Linked DNA regions of Homo sapiens. The protein of the gene in region 3 purifies or fractionates together with the protein of the main gene of each other region. This does not show direct contact. Each region holds a gene or a part of one and is shown on either strand. Other genes may lie near its edges. The genes, in order: ZMPSTE24, PCP4 and TMEM196.

Evidence for each region.
Region 1: the proteins of TMEM196 (region 3) and ZMPSTE24 purify together in Homo sapiens (affinity purification with mass spectrometry; one large-scale study listed by BioGRID and IntAct). This does not show direct contact.
Region 2: the proteins of TMEM196 (region 3) and PCP4 purify together in Homo sapiens (affinity purification with mass spectrometry; one large-scale study listed by BioGRID and IntAct). This does not show direct contact.

The regions. Positions count from the first base shown.
Region 1 is NC_000001.11:40,271,714-40,275,369, forward strand, and holds part of ZMPSTE24 (CAAX prenyl protease 1 homolog), read left to right. Parts: intron 1-180; coding exon 181-322; intron 323-3,656. UniProt on the Homo sapiens protein: Transmembrane metalloprotease whose catalytic activity is critical for processing lamin A/LMNA on the inner nuclear membrane and clearing clogged translocons on the endoplasmic reticulum.
Region 2 is NC_000021.9:39,898,428-39,902,083, forward strand, and holds part of PCP4 (calmodulin regulator protein PCP4), read left to right. Parts: intron 1-48; coding exon 49-100; intron 101-3,656. UniProt on the Homo sapiens protein: Functions as a modulator of calcium-binding by calmodulin. Thereby, regulates calmodulin activity and the different processes it controls.
Region 3 is NC_000007.14:19,725,073-19,728,728, reverse strand, and holds part of TMEM196 (transmembrane protein 196), read left to right. Parts: intron 1-2,960; coding exon 2,961-3,215; intron 3,216-3,656. UniProt on the Homo sapiens protein: Acts as a tumor suppressor in lung cancer. Inhibits tumor cell growth by inhibiting cell proliferation and migration and promoting cell apoptosis.

The DNA.
Region 1 (3,656 bases), on a different chromosome or scaffold from region 3:
GACAGATATTATGCTCTTACTATCTGGTACTATTTGGGCCTGGGAATACCAGAGCAAGTAAGTTCCTTGTTCTCAAGTTTGAGGTCAACATAGTTGTTTTAATATAATTTAATCTGTATAATAAAGAATGTTTTTTCTTTAAGAACATGTTCATATGTTATTCTGACATTTACTTTTCAGGTTCTTGTCACAATCTATGCTGATTATATTGCCCCTTTATTTGACAAATTCACACCTCTGCCTGAGGGAAAGCTTAAAGAAGAAATTGAAGTAATGGCAAAGAGTATTGACTTTCCTTTGACGAAGGTGTATGTTGTGGAAGGTAAGGCTACCTGGGGATAAGAAAGTTTTATCCAAGTGGTTTGTTTTATTTGATACTTTATTCTTAAAATTTTAATAAAAGAATTAATCAGTTTTTGTTTTTTTCTTTTTAAAATTTGTTATTTAAAGGCTAGGAGTTTACCTTTTGGCTTTTTAAGATTTACAGAAATTGATAACATAGGCCAGGGATAGAAACTGGTGGCTTGATACCAAATCCTGCTCTTGTCTGCAGCTATGTTTGTTTGGTTTTACAGTATTGTTTTAAATTTTTGGCCAAGGCTTTTTCACTCTCTGTTATGTTATCTTATATATTAGACTGATTTATTCACTTCTGTTATCTGCCTAGTTCTTTTAGGTAGTTAAGTTGGACTCTTGAATAGTCAAATTCTGTTTAGTATTAGTTTGGAGGCTCTTAAACAAAGCCAGTGTTATTGGCCTTGTCTCCTCCAAGAAAATATCCAGTGTTCTGGAGGACTCACCTGAAGATTGATTACCAAAGACTGCAGTACCACTGAGTACTGCAGATTTGTTATACTCTGCTTTTTTGATGATTACTTTTGAGATTTAAGTGGTCTCTTGACCGTTACTCAAATCTTGACTTCCCATTAACACCCAGTCTATTACTTTCTTTGAGACTTTGGTAGTTGACTATTAAAGTCTCAAAGAAGACTACGGAGATGTAGAGAGAAACTGTTGTAAGGTTCTATGACTTTCAGAATTTATAAAGTCCATATAAATGAATGTAATAGTTCTGTTCCTGCCACTTACCAGTTATAGGATCTTGGACAAGTGACTTCACCCTTCTGGGTTTCAGTTGTATTTCCTCTAAGCTATGGTTTCACAAATGTTTTTTGTAAAGGGCTAGATAGTAAATATTTTAGCTTTGCGGGCCACTTGTTCTCTGTTGCAACTATTCAGTGCTACTATTATAGCGCAAAAGCAGCCATAGACAATACTAAACAAATGAGTGTGGCTGTGTTCCAATAAAACTTTATGAAAATAAATGGCAGATTGGATTTGGCCTGTGAGCTACAGTTTGCTGATCCCTGCTCTAAAATAAAATATTACCAGTGAGAAGCAGCAGTGTTAGATGAAGGAATAGAAGCAGAAACAATCACAGGGTTAGAGGAGAACAGAGATGGTCACAACTGAAAAGAATGAATCAACAGCAACTGGAAGAACATAGAAATTTCAGACATCTGGCTGGGCGCTGTGGCTCACGCCTGTAATCCCAGCACTTTGGGAGGCCAAGGCAGGCGGATCACCTGAGGTCAGGCGTTCGAGACCAGCCTGGCCAACATGGTGAAACCCTGTCTTTACTAAAATACAAAAAATTAGCTGGGCGTGGTGGTGCGTGCCTGTAATCCCAGCTACTTGGGAGGCTGAGGCAGGAGAATCGCTTGAACCTGGAGGTGGAGGTTGTGGTGAGCCAAGATCAAGCCATTGCACTCTAGCCTGGGCAACAAGAGCCAAATTCTGTCTAAAAAAAAAAAAAAAAAAAAAATATATATATATATATATATATATATATATATGTCAGACATTTAGTGGCTCCTGAGGATATACAGCCCAACTAAAGGCACGATTGGAGTAGCTTAAAAGTCTGTGGAGAAATGGTAGAATAAGCCAGTTCATACTTACTTCTTTAGCCTCTGAAATAACTACTCTTTTTTTTTTAGGTAATATTAAACTAGAAATTTAATCATTAATCAGTACAACAGAATAGTCTCTAAGCTGCTTTTACTGAAGGAGCAACCTAAGTTGCTGATCCCTTAAGTTACAATCAGATAACGTGAAATAATAGTTAATGCTATGACAGTGGAGGTAGTCAATAGAATATGTGAAATATATCGGTGCTATTTTCTTTTTATCTTTTTTTTTCCCCCTACAACATCCAGAGTATGAGAGCTATTTTCATTTTAGATAAAATAGTCAGGGAAGGCTTTATGGAAGGTTATGACCTGAGCTGGGTGTTAATGGGAAGTCAAGATTTGAGTAGGTTGGGGGCAGCATTTCAGACGTCAGGCTTCAGGGTCAAAAGGCTTGGGTTTGAATCATAGCTCTACCACAGATTACCAGTGCTGGGCTTGGTGGCTCCAGCCTGTAATCCCATCTACTGGGGAGGCTGAGGTGGAAGGTCAGGAGTTCGAGACAAACTACTTGTGTGACTTTGCGCAACTTAGCTTTGCCAAACAGCAGTTTACTCACCTATAATGTATGTTTTAATTGTTGTTAACAACAGTAACAATTCTCAAAAATATTTTGAATGAATGAATGTTGTTGCTGACAATAACAACACACATTACATATTTGTAAATTGGTAGGGAGATTGTAGTGAAAAGCCAAGAATCTTGCTCTCAAAATATTATCAGATAGCAAGTGCTATGCAGCAAATTAAACTAGTTTGGTCTGATAAGTTGATACTGTAGATTGGTCATCAGATTGAGCTGAGACCTAAAGGGAGGAGCCGCCCATTTGACGTCAATGGGAAGATGTTCAAGGACCATGAAGAAGTCCAGTGTGGCTGCACCATAGCAGGAGAGTGTTAGGAGATGAAATCTGAGACATAGGCAAGAATCAGTCCACATAGGCCTTTGTAAGTCAGGGTAAGGAGTTTGGATTTTGAGTTCAGTGGGAAGAGCCATTGAAGGCTTAGACAGGAAAGTGACATGATCTGCTTTGTGTTTTTAAAATATCCTGGGCTACTGTATGGAGAATATGTTGTAGAGACAGGCAAAAGTCTAGGTAGGACATAATGGTAGCTTAGACTAGGATAATAGTAATTAATGGAGAGAAGTGGATACATTTGGGACAAGTTTTAGGGTAGAGTTGATTGAATTTTCTAATTGATTGCATTGGGAGAATAAGGGAAAGAGTGACATCAAAGATAATGGCCTAGACTTTTGACCTGAGCAGTTAGATATATGGTAGTTTCCTGAGATGGAAAAAAATAGGAGAAGAGTAGGTTTGTGGGGAATTAAGACTTCTAATGGCTATATTACATATTGAGGAACCTACTAAACATTGTATTAGAATTCTGCAAGCAATAGAAACCAACTGTGGCTGATTTAAGCAGAAAAACTGCTTATTGAAGCACTATTTGGACCAGGCGCAGTGGCTTATGCTTGTAATCTCAGCACTTGGGGAGGCCGAGGTGGGCGGATCACTTGAGGTCAGAAATTCGAGACAAGCCTGGCCAACATGGTGAAACCCTGTCTCTACTAAAAATACAAAAAAAAAAAAAAAAAAAAAAGCCGGGCGTGGTGGCGGGCGCCTGTAGTCCCAGCTACTTGGGAGACTAAGGCAGGAGAATTGCTTGAACCCAGGAGGCGGAG
Region 2 (3,656 bases), on a different chromosome or scaffold from region 3:
GAGTATATCTGATAACAATTGCTTTTTTCTTTTATTTTTTGCCTTTAGCGACAAGGTGCTGGGGCAACCAATGGAAAAGACAAGACATCTGGTGAAAATGGTAAGAGGACATGAATAGTCCAAGTTCTTTCTCTTTTGCCATCTGCAGCCCTGGGTATGCAGCAGGTGCGGATCATACATCCCATCCCAAACAGCTTACTATATGTGTCTGCGCTTCAGCTTACAGAGGATTTTAGCAATTCACAGTGAGCACTGAGGTCTGGTTTTATGAAGAAAACTGAGCTAGCTAAATGCCGTGATAAGAAGTTTCCCTTCCATAGGAGGACTCCCATTTTGGGCAACATGGTAATTACAATGCAAATCTAGTTCTCTGCTTTCTTCATTAGGGTGGGTGAGAATCATCCAAGTTGTTGTGAGGATAAAATGAGATCAAACGAGATAAGTGATTTGAAAACTGTGAAGTACACAACTTCTGAAATGATGTTTTAAAACTTGCTTCAGCCCTCCGGAGCACACACAATGCGGTGCTGGTCCACTGGAAGGTGCTGAGTCAGTGAATGTCACTGCAGCGATTCACCAGCAAATAAAAATGATAGCAGTGACAGGAACATTGCATCCTGCCTCTTCATGGGCCCATCTCAACCATGACCCTAAATTGTAGGAATGATCATCATATTTTTATGGATCAGGAAATGGAGGCTTGGCATTGGGGTGAGATTTAGCTAGAAATGGGAAGTGCATGGATCCTGAAGGAAATAGAGCCAGTTGGAACCCCAGGTCTCTAACTTTAGCAATTGACATAAGAACAAGCATAATAATAAAAAATACCCAGTGGTATGCACCAAGGGCCACAGCATAGTTCCGGTGAGGTGAGACTCTGGGTGTTCTTCCTTTCTGTTAACTCAAGATGAACTCTCCTTTTATGGAAAATGACTCTTGCTTCCAACTAGATGAAATTGATGCTAGTGTCCATCAATCAGATTGTGGATAATGCCAATCTCAAATACCATCGGTTAAAATTCCCTGGGGCCTCACAACCCCTTTGGAGCCTCTGTGGTGGGTCTGAGCTGAGCAAGACTCAAGTATGAGAATGTTGCTCTGCGTCTGCAGCCTGCCAATATGCCCACCCATTTAGGGCAGTCCTATTGGGCAGGGTGAGTGCAGTGTTCCCTGGGTAAAGGGGTCATCATATCAATAAGTAGAGAGGTGGGGGCTCCACAATGTCCTAATTGGAGCTAGGGGGCTGGGAGAAGAAGGAAACAAGGTTTTCCATGAGGCCAATGGCTCTTCCTTTGCTGCCCAGGGCTTTTCCTGTCTCCTGTGTGTGAGTTGGGGTGGGTGTGTGGGGTACTGGCAAGGAAGGCAGGAAGCAGAGGAAGGAGCAAAGGATGGGGCTTAAAAGGGAGGAGCAATATTGTAGTTGCCTATATGAGGAAGGACCCACTGCCTGCCATAGGGGAGCATAGGGCGCTGTGAGCCTCCACTGATTTTCCCAGTTCATACATTCGTAGCCATCTGTTCATGCAAGTTCCTTTCCACTGAACCTCACAACCTTAGAATTAGAGTTTTACAGTCAGAAGACTTCTCAGAGATCCTCTATTGTCGTGATTCTCAACTTTTTTTTGAGACAGAGTTTCACTCTTGTTGCCCAGGCTGGAGTGCAATGGGACAATCTCGGCTCACTGCAACGTCTGCCTCCAGGGTTCAAGTGATTCTCCTGCCTCAGCCTCTTGAGTAGCTGGGATTACAGGCACCCACCACCACGCCTGGCTAATTTTTGTATTTTTAGTAGAGACAGGATTTCACCATGTTGGCCAGGCTGGTCTCGAACTCCTGAACTCAGCTGATCCACCCGCCTCGGCCCCCCAAAGTGGTGGGATTACAGGTGTGAGCCACTGCACCCAGCCAACATTTTTGTTCTCACAACTCCTTTCCATTTTAAAGAATTCTTGAGGACCCCAAAGAACTTTTGTTTATGTTGGTGATATCTATTGATGTTTGTCATGCTGGAACCCTACTGACTCTTATAGAGATGGTACTGAAGAAAAGACCTGGAGCCAGTGAACAAGACATAGGATTTATTGAGGGGAGTTACCTATAGGGCAGTCCAGTGGCGGTGGGCTGGATAAAAGAACCACAGCTGCCTGTAACAAGCATGCAGTTTACACAGCGTTTTCACTTAGCACCCTCCCTCTAGCAACTTCTACTTGGCAATCTACATTCATTCCAAAACAAATGTCCCCAATCCCCTGTATGGCCTGCATCCCATGGGATGGGCTGGGAATTCAGATGTTCCTCATAGATAAGAATGAATCTCTATACTGGCCACTCCCAGATTCCTTAGCTCGGAACTCGACTCCAAGCACACATTCTTCTTAGACCATAGGGTCATTCTCAGGGTATGCTTAAGTTACGCTATTGATATCAGGTGTATCTGCCATACACTGTCTCCTATATTAGAAATTAAAATGGAGAAAGTTTTAAATGGTTTTTCTTATTAATTTATTAAAAATAAAATAATAAACCCACTACATGTGAATGTAAGTAACATTTTAAAAAATGAAAAGTCATTATATTTTCCAAAATGGAAAAGGATATTTAGTAAAAAGTGGCAATTTTACATTTCTGCAACTCTCTTTAAAGTCTGGTTTGACAGAGGACAGCTGGATTTTCATACTGGCTTCTGTGTTCAATCTGTTATATCATGTGATGTGTAGCCTATGGAAAATTCCACTGCTCACTTGTGAGAGTATGAGATTTAAAAGAGCAAATAATATCCTTTAAGATCAAACTCTTACCTTTTATAATAATAATATCTTTTATAAGACCAAAAATGTTTTTGATCTTTTGGGCTCCCTTAAAGGATGTAGGCACCCCCCAGGGTACCTGGTTCACACTTTGGGAACTACTGCTCAGCATGTCTCATGTCATGCCTTGAGGAGCCTGAAGACCAGGCACATGGTGACGAAGCCAGGACTAGGTCCTATGTGTTCGATGTCTCTGCCCCTTGGCTTTATCTTGACATCCTATTGGTCTTTCAAACCATGCTGACATGCTCAGTGCTTTGCACCAAAGGGAATTACCGGCTACTATAAGTGATGCCATTTTCTGCCATTCAAAGACATGGAATTTCTTTTAGCTGAAAACCAGTCCACACCAGTGGAAACTGAGTGAGGTTTTTTATGGAGGTATAAAAATTAATTAAATGGAAATATTCCTGATGCTATGAATAAGGCTTTTCATTAGATAATTCTAGATATTAAATGATAGTCACTTTTGGGTAGAAAAGTGAATTTGAGATTATTTTACAGTTACTGGATAATGGCAATGTATAAATGTAAATTATTATTAACATGCTATACTTTAATTTCAGCTAAAACTGCCTATATATGATATTTGTACGTGATACTTTATTATAATTTAAAGTCTGTGCTTTTGCCTTTAAAAAGGAGCAAAGACAAAAACTGGAACAGCCCAAGAAAGATGAGGGTAAAAACTTCTAGAAGTAATCTAAAAAACATTTTCCTAAAGAATTGAAGTTACTTAATTTTTTATTCTTAAATTCCTGATATGAGACGATCATCTTGGAATTTCCATTTTAACCTAGTATTACATTCCATTGAAATTCAAATGATTTTATTCTGTCATTATAGGTA
Region 3 (3,656 bases):
CATAAGGGTTTGGAAATAAGGAAAAAGTGTGGTTTATTTTACCAAGTATTATGGGAAAGAACATAGACACAAATTGGCAAAATTAATACTACACAGGGACCCTAGGAAGTACCCTTTGAGCCTAAAGAGAGTTTTCCAAGGTGAGGCCAGTTATCTGAGCAGATCAGGGAATGGGAAGCATTGCAGTTATTTTTATTTGACCCCTTTTTCTAATCACATCTTTCTTCGTGAGAACATCTATTATGGCAAAAAGGCTAAAGCCCTCACTGCTTTAGACAGCAATTTTAGATGTAATTTTTAAAAATTACATAAAGGGAAAAATGAAACCTTTAGAAAAAAATGTATTTTTTCAGGCTTGTAACTTGCATTTATGATTCTCCCATCATTTTTTACACATGGTCTTCATTCTCCTTATGCCCTTCCTCTACGAAGACTCTTTATGACTATGTAGGAACAACTCCTTGGGAGAAAGCAAGTAAACAAGCAAGGAAGCATGACAAAAGGAAAGAGAAAGAGAAAAAAGAGAGAGAGAAAGAAAGAGGAGGGAGGGAAGGAAAAAATAAAAAAGGAAGGAAGAGGCTTTTTGTTGTTGTTGTTTTATACAAAGGCAATAGTGGCACTTCTCTGTCTTTCTCTTATAAATTACAAGGAAAAAAATGATGAAATCTGATTTTTTTAAGAAACTACCGCCCAGGTGGTAGCTGTACCTACTATTAGAAGGTACATTATCCTGTGTACTTTCTAAGGTCCCCATTGATGGCATTTAACTATCAATATTTTCTACATTTTAATGAAATTAAAAAAAAATTTCACTCCAAATATATCTGCAGTCTAGAGTCTCCAACCTGGTGAAATTTGAAAATAGTATATGGTTACAGATTTAAACATTTTAATTCCTGGATAAGATTGTTTTGTTAACACATGTTAATGAGGTGTCATGCCTTTAAAGAATTAATCAGAATGACATCAGCAAAGACATGGGCTTTCCTGTAACAGAAAACTAAAGGTATTGTCTGCTTTCTCTATAACAATAATTAATTATTTGAAGCTAGATTTTAATATCTTTCCGTATTTTCAGAGAATGAGTAAACACCAAAATATATCCCCAAAGAACAGCATGACATCCAAATCTACTTTAAAATAAAATATAATTGGTTAATTCTACTAGGCATCTTGAGCTACAAGTTTACACTTAGTAGGATGATTTAATTATTTGGTAACTGATCTTCAGTATTATATTTAATCAAGTATAAAAAGATTTTACCCGTTCATTATTGGATTTTTAGCTCTGATGATATTTACAGATGCAATAAGGAATGCTGAATTAAGTTGAAGAAATGAAATTAACTACTTGTAGTTACTGACCTGACATATTCTCAAGAAAGCCTTCTCCAAAAATCTTGGCTGGGCTAAATTCTTCTCCTCCCTACTCCTAGGGCAACACATGTATCCCTTTCTTAATACTTATCATGCCATGTTAAAATTCTGGATCTTCTCTTTCACAAGATTTAACTATTCTCAAGAGGAATTATTATGAATGATTGATTGTAATGCCAGCAGCTGCTGCACTCAGGGGCTAACAGATGCTAAGTGCTCAATAAGTGCAGGCTAAACTCAACCGTCAATGAAAAATAATATCTGATAAAATAAAATTAAATGTTAAAGTGAGTTACAAAGCTGTTTGACCTGGGGAATTACAACAAAGGAGGAGATCAATAAAGTCCAAGTTAGGACTTAATTTGTGCCTTTCATCCATGAGTCTAAGGAAGAAGCAAAATTATTTCCAGGAAATGAAAAATGTCACTGATGTGGGAATGAGTAACCCATATTGAAGGACAAGAGAGGTGACTGGAATAAGTCTGTGTTCCCGAGAAGAATGGAAATTAGATTGCATAATTCAATTAGTATCATAGTACAAAGTATCATGAAAGCCCATAGAAGAATTTAGACCAGATGCAAAAAGAAAATATAATTATTAAAGTTATTTGACTAGTTAATTAAATTTATTAAATATTCACAAAGTACTTACTTCTCAGAAAGCATTATTCTTGGTTCTGCCAGGGATCCTATGATAGTTGTTGATTAAACCCCCCTAGCTCTATTAATAGACACCGAGATTCAACCAATAGTAGGACCAAAAGCAAAGCCACATCATCTGTTTCTCTAAAACGAACAAACGAACAGTATTTTTGGAACGCCTATTGTATATTCTTCAATGATGATAGTGCCACAAAGTAATAAAATATTTGTAATATATAGGGGTCAGTTCATAGGAGTCCCTAAAGTACTTGCTTAGGAAATACATGCACAATGAAATATGAGTGAACTTTTTTTTAAAAAAAGAGATTTAACTAAATTTCCTAAGCTCACATAGGTAGGAAGATATAAAGATTTGAAGTTAGGTGGAACTAATGACAATCCAAAGAGAAGCTATTGAGATATTTTTGAAGGACTGACACAGTGAAAGTAGATTTGGAATCAGAAAAATCTGGGTTTGGTGCCTAAATTTAGTGTTAGCTATTGACCATTCATTTTTCTAAAACGTATGTTACTATCTCAGAGGCTTGCTGGGAGTGTCAATTGAGATGATATTTGTTAAAGTTCCTAGCATGGTAGCACACGGTAGATGTTAAATAAATATTTAAATCTGAATCTACCTAGACGATAAATTTTGTTTGCTTCAGAGTTTTCATAAGCTATATCCTTGGCTTTAATATAGTCAGCTATCAATTTCTGAAACACTGTGGTATACTCCCTCTGTCTACTGTGAGTCAGAGTGAATAGAAACTTGGCAAAAATAAAATGTAAAAAAAAAATCTCCTGTCCTCTGTGAAGCACCAAAACCGCTTATTCTTCTTTATTGTAGGCTAGTCATCCTTGACATGCAGCCGGACAGGGCAACTGTGTTCTGGTCAGGTTTGCCTTTTCAACTTTAACGCTGCCTTTCTTTTTCTTATCAGATGATCCTCTTTTCAGCCTGCTGTATCTGTGGACTTATTGGGGGCATCCTGAATTTTCAGTTCCTCCGGGCAGTCACAAAGAAAACTTCCTCCCTATACCCACTGCACCTTGCCTCCATGTCTCTCGCGTGCATTGGGATCGGGGGCTGCACTCTCTCTTCCTGGCTCACTTGTCGACTAGCCAGTTATGAACAGAGGAGGATGTTCTCAGAAAGGGAGCATTCCCTGCATCACTCTCATGAAATGGCTGAGAAAGTGAGTTTTGTACCTTTTCCTCTCACTGCTAGCACATGATGAAGACTGAAGTCCACTCTGGGTGAATCAACTTGAAACTTTAGATCACAATTTGAGGAATCAGATTTTATACATTTGGCTCTATTGGGTTAAGAATAGAAATTTTATTTTATTTTTCTCTGCAATTCATGGGTACACCTATTTTCAACAACATTTTGTAGTCTGTCTATTCAAAAACACAGTGCTTAAAATAGTATTTCATAAAATATTGAATACCCTATAAATATGGATTTTTATGTATTATACTGAGGAAAAACACAGATACTAAATACACTCTCCACTCAATAATGCCAGTTTTAGAAATTGCATGAATTCCCTTTTCTAGCTCTTCCCTTGTTCTATTAAGGAGATGCATTTGATTATGTAAATTTGATCTTCAAGTATAAAGGGGCTTTTTAATAA